Linked DNA regions of Homo sapiens. The protein of the gene in region 1 purifies or fractionates together with the protein of each later gene. This does not show direct contact. Each region holds a gene or a part of one and is shown in the gene's direction. Other genes may lie near its edges.

Region 1 (4,447 bases):
TGTGTGTGTGTGTGTGTGTGCGCGCGCGCTCCCACGCGCACGTGACCACTTGCTACGAAATTCGTTTTATTCCAGTGTGTGAGTGTGCACCTGTGTGCGTGTGTGCACTCCTGTTGACCCAGTTTCTGCTCTGTGGCCAGGTCCATGACCCTAGACGACCCCAGGTGTGCCCTCGATGACGTCTGCAGGGATGGAGCACCGCCCCTGCCATTGGGTATTGCACTGTGTGATGCCATCCTCGGGGCCCTCAGGGTGATGGAACCCAATAGGCTTCCTTAGGCTTTCCTTTCAGATGGACAGGAAATAGATGATGTTCCATTGTCATTTTGTTTTCTTTCTTTCCATGGATTCTGTGACCATCTTCCTCTCCTCATTGACTCTGCCAGAAGGGGATTCCTGGTGGGGCAAGGGTAGCTGGTGGGAAATGAGCTACCAGGAAATTAGCAAAGGGTCTTCTGGCCATCTGGGGACAGTTCTCATGTGGTCCCCAGCCCAGTCTCGAGGCTTCTGGGCCGGTCACCCTGCAGCCTCGGTGCTGCGCCTCTGGATCCAGCCTCCGCAGGAAGAACCCTGGGAGACCCAGCAAAACGGGGTGCCTGGTCTGACAAACGTCCCCCCGTTCCTCTGGCTCTGCGGCTCAGGAATAGGCCGAGACATCATGTCCAGGCAGTGCCAGGCCACCTCACTGCCCCCTTTAAGGTTGAGCGCAGAGGGCTTTTGGGGGCGAGCATGAAGCTGGGCACCCAGAGCCTGAGGCCGACTGTCCCTCCCTGTGTCCTGGAGTGGGGGCCTTGACCCGAGAAGACCCCCAGGGGATGGCCTGTGGGTGCTGATGTGGGGAGGGGAGGTCTGTGGACTGAGGGGGGTCATTGGCAGGGGACATTGATCACCGCGGCTCAGGGTTCTGCTCAGTGGGGTCAGTGGGAACGTGGTCAGTGAAGGCCTGGTCAGTGGGGGCCTGGTCAGTGGGGGTCTGGCTGGCAGAAGCCTGGCCAGGTGGCAGCTAGGTGACTTCAGGCAGGGTTTGTCCTTGGAGCCTCCTTGCCGCCATCTGTAGTGGGAACGAGTCATGGCACTCCGGAGGGCTGCTGGGAAGAGGAGGTGAGCAGGTGTGTGGAATCCAGCCCTGCCAAACAGATCTAGCACTTTACAGCCTAGATGAGTCCCCTGCTAGGGAGGGGACCTGCCCTTTGCCTTTTGCCCCCAACCCTCAACCTTCTGCCCCCTATCTTCCATCTGCAATCCCAGGAATGCCCTGGATGGGGAGGTCTGAGTTTAGGGAGCACCTGTGGATGCTCTGATGATGGCCATGGGTCCCGAGGGGGGAGAGAGTGACAAGGGTGACCCAGTGTCCTGGGTGCACATATGAGTGGGGCAGCTGGGCCTAGCCAGAGCAGTGACAAACGCATGCACACATGTGTTCACCCACATACACGTGCATGCTCACATGCACAAACACTGCACACACGCACGTTGACACTTCAAGGGGTGGAGGGTGCTGACTCTGGTCCCGGCTGACCCAGGCAGGGGCCCATTGTGATGGGTGTCATGACCTCACAATGTCACTGGTGCTGAGCACTCGCCCACCTGTCCGCTTGCCGTCTCTATGTCTGGAGCTCTTAGAGATAAGACATAGAGGTGTCTGGTTCTGAGAAAAGGAAGTTTTGCTAAGTGAGAGACACAACTGACTCAACTGACTCAGGTGAGTGTGACCTGCTCTGTTCCTTCCCTGCTGACCTGGGTACAGTCATTACCTGGTGGGCAGGGCTAGCCTCTGGGCAGGTGCCGAGGAGGGTCATCCCTGAGCACTCACCAGGTGCCTGTTCTGCACTGACCTGGTGGACTCTGTGGGGTGGGTGCTGTCCCCGAATGTACCCATTCCACAAGTGAGATGTCTAGGGTCAGAGAGGAGGTGACTGGCCAAGAGACCCAGATGTGATCCTGGGCTGTGCTCTCAGCCCTGCCCTGTGCATGCCCTGGTCTCTATGGCCCTAGATTCCAAATCTGCCCAGGGTTTTCTGGCCCCTGATGGGGCAGAGTCTGGCCCTGAAAGAGCTACTGGGATGGAACTCCTATGGGTGTGGTGGAGGGAGGTGGTGCTCGGTCCAAGTCTGTGCCCTAAGCTGGGTGTCCGCAGGAGGAGGTCTCACCAACTCAGACTTCACGTGCGGTCACTGAGGGTCTCCGTGGGACCCACTGGACACATGGGGTCCCTTGTCTGGGAGTAGGGAGCCCTCTGCCTGTGGGCAGTTGTGGTAGAGGACCTTGAACACTGCTGCTCTGGGGCCTGGGCAGGGAGGACTTGGACAGTGGGGACCTGGTCAGGAAGGCCTGGTCACTGGGGGACTGGTCAGCGAGGACATGGTCAGTGGGGAATTGGTCATCAGGGGCCTGGTCAGCAGAGGCTTGGCCACTGGGGCTTAGTCAGTGAAAAACTGGTCAGTGGGGACATGGTCAGTTGGAGCCTGGTCATCAGGGGCCTGATCAGTGAGGACCTAGTCAGAAGGCCTGGTCACTGGGAAAACGGTCAGTGAAAGCCTGGCCGGCAGGGGTCTGGTTAGTGGGGGCCTGGCCAGATGGTTGCTTGGTGACCTCAGGCACGGGGTTTGTCCTTAGAGCCTCCTTGCCTCCGTCCATAGCAGAAATGAGTCATGGCACCCTGGAAGGCTACTGGGAGGAGGAGGTGAAAAAATGTGTGGAATCCGACCTTGCCACTCACACCCAGCATTTTACAGTCTAGCTGAGTTCCCCCTAATGAGGGGCCCTGTCCTGTGCCCTCTAACCCCTAGCCCCCATCTGCATCTTCAGGACTGCCCCGTGTGGGGAGTTCTGAGGTTGGGGAGGACCCATGGATGCTCTGATGCTTGCCACAGGCCTCAAGGGAAGGTGACGCTGATTAAGACTTGATGAGCACTTGGGTGCACATGTAAGTGGGACAGCCAGCCCTGGCCAGAGACGCTACTCGTGCACACACATGTTCACCCACATAAACATACATGCTCACCTGCACAAACACATTTTGACACCTTAGGGGCTGGAGGACACCGACTCTGGGCCCTCTTGACCTGGGCAATGGCCCATTATGATGGGTGCCATGACCTCAAAATGTCACTGGTGCTGAGTGACCGCCCACCTGCCCACCCACTCACCTCTGTGTTGTGCAGCACTTGCACATAAGACGCACACAGGTGTCTGGTTCTGTGGTGCATGAACGACTTTTCTAAGCGAGAGACACAGCAGCCTGAGCAGACTCAGGTGAGTGACCTCTGGGCAGATGCCGACGAGGGTCACCCCTGAGCACTCACCGGGTACATGTTCTGCACTGACGGCGTGGACCATCCTCTCCTTTGTCCTCACAGAGACTCTGTGGCGATGGGTGCTGTCCCCAAATGTAGCCATTCCACAGGTGAGATGTGTAGAGTCAGAGAGGCGGTGACTGGCCCAGAGACCCAGATGTGACCCGGGCCGTGCACTCAGCCCTACCCTTTGCCATGCTGGACTTGAGCTTTGACCGCTGAGGCCTCTCTACCCTAGATTCCAAATCTTCCTTGAGTTCTGGAATTCAATGAGGCAGGGTCTGGTCCTGGAAGAGCCACTGGGACAGAGCCCCTGTGGGTGGGGTGGAGGGTGAAATTCTTGGTCCAAGTCTGTGCCCTAAGCTTGGTCCCCACAGGAGGAGGTCACTGATGGTTGCTGTGGGACCCACTGGACACATGGGGTCCTTCATCTAGGAGTGGGGTGGGGAGCCCTCTGCCCTCAGGCAGTTGTGGAAAATGAAGGAGCCCTGGAGGGCTGCCTGGAGGGTGACAATCGTCTCTCCTGGTCAAAGAGGCTTGGGGACTGGAACCCTCCTGCAGCGTCCCATTCTCTCTGTCTGGTCCTCTAGAGGCCTTGCCTTCCGTTTGCCCCGAGTATTCCTGGGGGGGACGGTTCCCCCAGGTGTTCTCTAGGACTAAGGCCCCAGCGTTCTCTTGTTCTTTCTTGGTGACCCAGGAAAACAAAGTCCCCTCCTGTATTGACAGCTGGGAATTGTGGTGTCCACCGTCCTCGACCTGCGACGGGGTCTCCATGAGCACAGAGGCTGCTCTGGAGTCAACAGATCATCTTTTCCCCAAACCAAACTGCTTGGCTGGCGTTGTTCCTGAAGGGGCTTCACTGGCCAGAGTGAGTGAGAATTGGGGTAGAACGGAGCAGTCACCAGATGTCTTGCTTCCTACGGAAAACTGATTATCTTCCTGGTCCCTGAACCATCCTATAGAGACATCCAGTCCCTGACTCCACCTGCCTCCAGGTGCCCAGAACAGCCCATCGTGGGGACTTCACCCTCAGCAAGTGGACGCCGTTTGTCCTGCCAGGGCAGGTGTGTGTCTGCCTTGGGGTGTTCGGGGACAATAGGCCTCTCTGTTCAGGTCCCCGTGTGCTCAAATCCTCAAGAAGGAGCCCACCA
Region 2 (3,811 bases), on another chromosome or scaffold:
CTGTCTTGTCCTTTCTGCTTTTCTGCTTCTGACCAGACCCACAGCCTCAGAAGCCAGAGGCATCGCCACAGCTGGCCTGGCGTTGAGAGCCTGGGAAGTGAAGTGAAGGCAAGTCAGTCAGCTGAGACAGCTCCTTCTCCCCGAAAAGGAGGAACTAATTCCGCCTTAAGGCACCGAGCACGAATGAAATTAACCTGCTTCTTCGAGGTGTGGGTGGTGTGGCCAGTTTAGGATGCAGCAAAAAACAGTCAAGGTTGCGAATTTAACATGCTGGGCGTTACCTGAAATAACTAGGACTTCCAACTACTGAAGGCAACTGAGGCATAGCTGGGCAGCAGTCACAGGCAAGACGGTCGGGGAGAGAAGCCTGAGGCCCTGGCCTGGCCTGGCCTTCTCATTGCCAGAACACGGCTTAGCAGTCAAGGCCTCAAGCAACATAAACCATCTCCTTGCATGGTTAGGCAAATGCCGAGTCCAATCACTCACACGACATCATTTCTCAAAACCAGACCTCCTGGGTACTCTCTTCTCTTCACCTCCATCCTTGGAGGAATAGAGTTTGGGAGAGTGGGGCAGACAGGAGATTTCCAGTAGAAGTTAAAAACCCCGAGGCCACCTTATGCCTTTACAATGGTCTCTCCTGAAAACTAAGGAAATAACAATACAAATCATGCTATATTTACATAGTAAATGAATATATGACTCGTTCATTACTGAAAATGTACAAAATGTAGAAAGACAAAAACAAGAAAATTTAAACTACATATAATCCCATTACCACATTTTGTCATGGGATAAGCACATTCTGACATAAATCTTTCCACTGCCTTTTCCCCTTGGAGTCATCTTTTAACCTCTCAAAGAAGCTTCAGTATTGCATCATTCAACTTCACAAGACTCTCACAAGGAAAGTACTGCCAGTGTAATCGGTACTATTTAGCAAACAAAGAAAACGGAGGCTCCCAGCAGTTCTGCCACCTCAGTTCATGCGTCAGTTTCAGCTGTCAGCCCTATGTTTTCTCAGGTGCCTCAACACGGAGGAGCTTCACCCTCAAGTAACAAGAACACCCAAGACACCGGAAGGCCGGTTCATTTCACTTTCCCATCAGGTGAACTAACCGAGATCAGATGCCAGAAATGTGCCCACTGTTTTAAAGTCCACTTGCAAGGAACGGGCACACTCAAGACTGCACGGTTAAGACTCCACTGGGTTTGGGAGGTGGAGGCAGGTGGATTACCTGAAGTCAGGAATTTGAGACCAGCCTGGCCAACATGGTGAAACCCTGTCTCTACTAAAAATACAAAAATTAGCCACGCATGGTGGCACACACGTGTAATCTCAGCTACTCGGGAGGCTGAGGCAGGAGAATTGCTTGAACCTGGGAGGTGGAGGTTGCAGTGAGCAGTGAGCCGAGATTGCGCCACTGCACTCCAGCCTGGGCGACAGAGCGAGACTCTGTCTCAAAAAAAAAAAAGAAAAAAAAAGTAAACTACATGATTCCAGTGAACTGGGAAGAGTAAAAAAAAGGTTACAAAAAAAAAAAGTAAACTGCATGAGTCCAACAAATGTGTAAACAATGTCCATCACTGCTAAAATGAATCAGTGAAAACAAGACACCATTAATTTTTTTTGTCTATGAAATTGACAAAGAATACGGACTGCAATTTTTAGCAATTTTAGCAAGTTTTCTGTAGGGTAATTTAGTAACAAGTATCAAATGTATTTTAAAATGGCCATATCTGTTGACCCAGCAATTTCACCTTTAAAAATGTCTCCTACGGACATAAACAGAGGAGTGCCCAAAGAAACACATCAAAATGTTTGGTAAGAAAAAATTGGGACATACCTATATAATGAAATAGCATGCAGTTATTGAAGTCTTATATGTTGCCACAGGAAGATGTTTACAATATATCACGTCAAAGGTTTTGAAACTTTATATATATAGTATTGTACCAAAAAAAAACCTTTCTATAAAATATACAAATCTATGCATAGAGAAACAATGGGAGGTTCTTACATCAAAAGCTAACAATAGCCTTTATCTCCAGGGGAGTAGAAATACAGGTGATTTTTTTGGAGGGGGGAGTATGTTTTCTACATTCTACATTGAGCATGTGTTATTTTTGTCATGAGACGACATATTATTTAAAAATTGAACAGACTGATCACATCTAGGATTGTGCCTAACCAGAAACTAAAGCTCCTGTGTCATCTAGATTCTGGAAGTACATTCTTAAATCTGTTTTTCTTTCTGAAGTCTTTTCTCCCTCAGCAGAGGCATTTATGTGGACCCAGGAGTGGGGCACACGGCCTTTTCTCCATGCCCATCACCTCAAAATGCCCCTGTGTTTCTTAGTCTCTTTTTAACATATGTGAGCAGATAATGTATGTGGCCCTGAAATTTAAAAACAAAACCAAAGCAATCTAGTGTCAGACACCACCCTCTGAGCCTGCCCCACTCCCAATAATTGCTGAGCTGGGCATCTGTCCCATCTGGGGACTGGACGATGGGTGTCTGTGATGATGGCTCTGCCTCCCCCACAACATCTGTGTAAGAGGCACTCCATTTATTTGCAGATTCCCATTCTGCTGTGGATGCTCTTTCAAGCCCTCAACTGAACTCTGAGTGAATGAAGCTGGGGGAAGTCCCCAGAGTGATGTGTGAGGATACCAACTCCCCTTCCCGTCCAGGGAGCCAAGACCCTGAAAACTTGTGGTGGGCCTCAAATACCCACCGGGTCTCAGGGTCCTCACGAGCCCCTTTCTCTGCCTCAGGCACAACCAACGTCAGCCTGGTGTGGTGGATATGGAGGTGTCAGGCAATGAGTCTTGTTGCATATCTATCCCGCTCCCCAAAAGTGGCAAAGTGCAAACTGTTATTCATTCAAACTGCCACTTGATTATGTTGAAAGCCAGTTACTGAACCCAGAGAGAACAGTCTTCATGGTGGGTAGGAGCTTCCTGTCAAGAAGAGTTAATTTTAATTTTTCCACTGAGCTCAACCTCAAAGTGAGGTTGATTGCTACTCAGCAAGATGGACTGCATTAGCGGCGGCTTTAATTGGGCGCAGATCTACGTCCCCAAAGCATAATGTTTGTTGTACACATACTTTGGGGCAAGACGAAAAATGAAAAGCAGACCTTTCTAAGGAAAAATGGAAAGCACAATGTGTCCCACAGTCAGAATGGCCACACTAAGAGCCAAGTGGAGGGGGGCTCAGTGGGACTCCCCACCTCCCCATGCCACAGTTCTGATGGGCTGTCTGCAAATGTTTCCAAATGCTCAATTCCCTTCCCAAACACTGGACACCATCATGGTTCTCATGCCAAATAAAAAGCTCCAGGAAACCAATGAAAGACAAGCGCACCCTTGGCCGAGGGGCCATGGCATATATTTCTGGTGTGAGGCTTCCTCCTGGCTCAGGGTGTTGGTCCCTGCTAGCATCTAACATGGTCACTTCTGTCCACATGCTTTTACCAGTGGCCTTGAGATGAGCCCTCAGCTGGAGTGCAATGCCACTTTTACCCTCTTACTGGTACGGCTCCAGACCCTTGTCACATCTTCCCTGAGCTGAAGTCCTGGTCTTCATGCTATTGAGGGAAGTGTCTTCTTAAACCCAGATTGTATCACTTCTCTTTAAACACTCTCTAGAGCTCTCTTTGACTCCCAAACACAGATCCTAGCATCCAGGATCCCCACACATCAGCCAGATTGATTTTTCTTTTTCTTTCTTTCTTTTTTCTTTTCTTTTTTTTTTAAAGACAGAGTCTCTGCTGCTCAGACTGAGTGCAGTGGTGCAATCACAGC

Evidence for each region.
Region 2: the proteins of TBC1D28 (region 1) and DUSP29 purify together in Homo sapiens (affinity purification with mass spectrometry; one large-scale study listed by BioGRID and IntAct). This does not show direct contact.

What each region holds. Positions count from the first base shown.
Region 1 is NC_000017.11:18,641,545-18,645,991, reverse strand, and holds the start of TBC1D28 (TBC1 domain family member 28), read left to right. Parts: upstream 1-1,600; 5' UTR 1,601-1,702; intron 1,703-1,708; exon of another isoform or gene 1,709-3,255; intron 3,256-3,359; exon of another isoform or gene 3,360-3,406; intron 3,407-3,993; 5' UTR 3,994-4,068; coding exon of another isoform or gene 4,069-4,164; exon of another isoform or gene 4,165-4,213; intron 4,214-4,258; coding exon of another isoform or gene 4,259-4,360; intron 4,361-4,447.
Region 2 is NC_000010.11:75,046,063-75,049,873, reverse strand, and holds part of DUSP29 (dual specificity phosphatase 29), read left to right. Parts: intron 1-3,811. UniProt on the Homo sapiens protein: Dual specificity phosphatase able to dephosphorylate phosphotyrosine, phosphoserine and phosphothreonine residues within the same substrate, with a preference for phosphotyrosine as a substrate. Involved in the modulation of intracellular signaling cascades.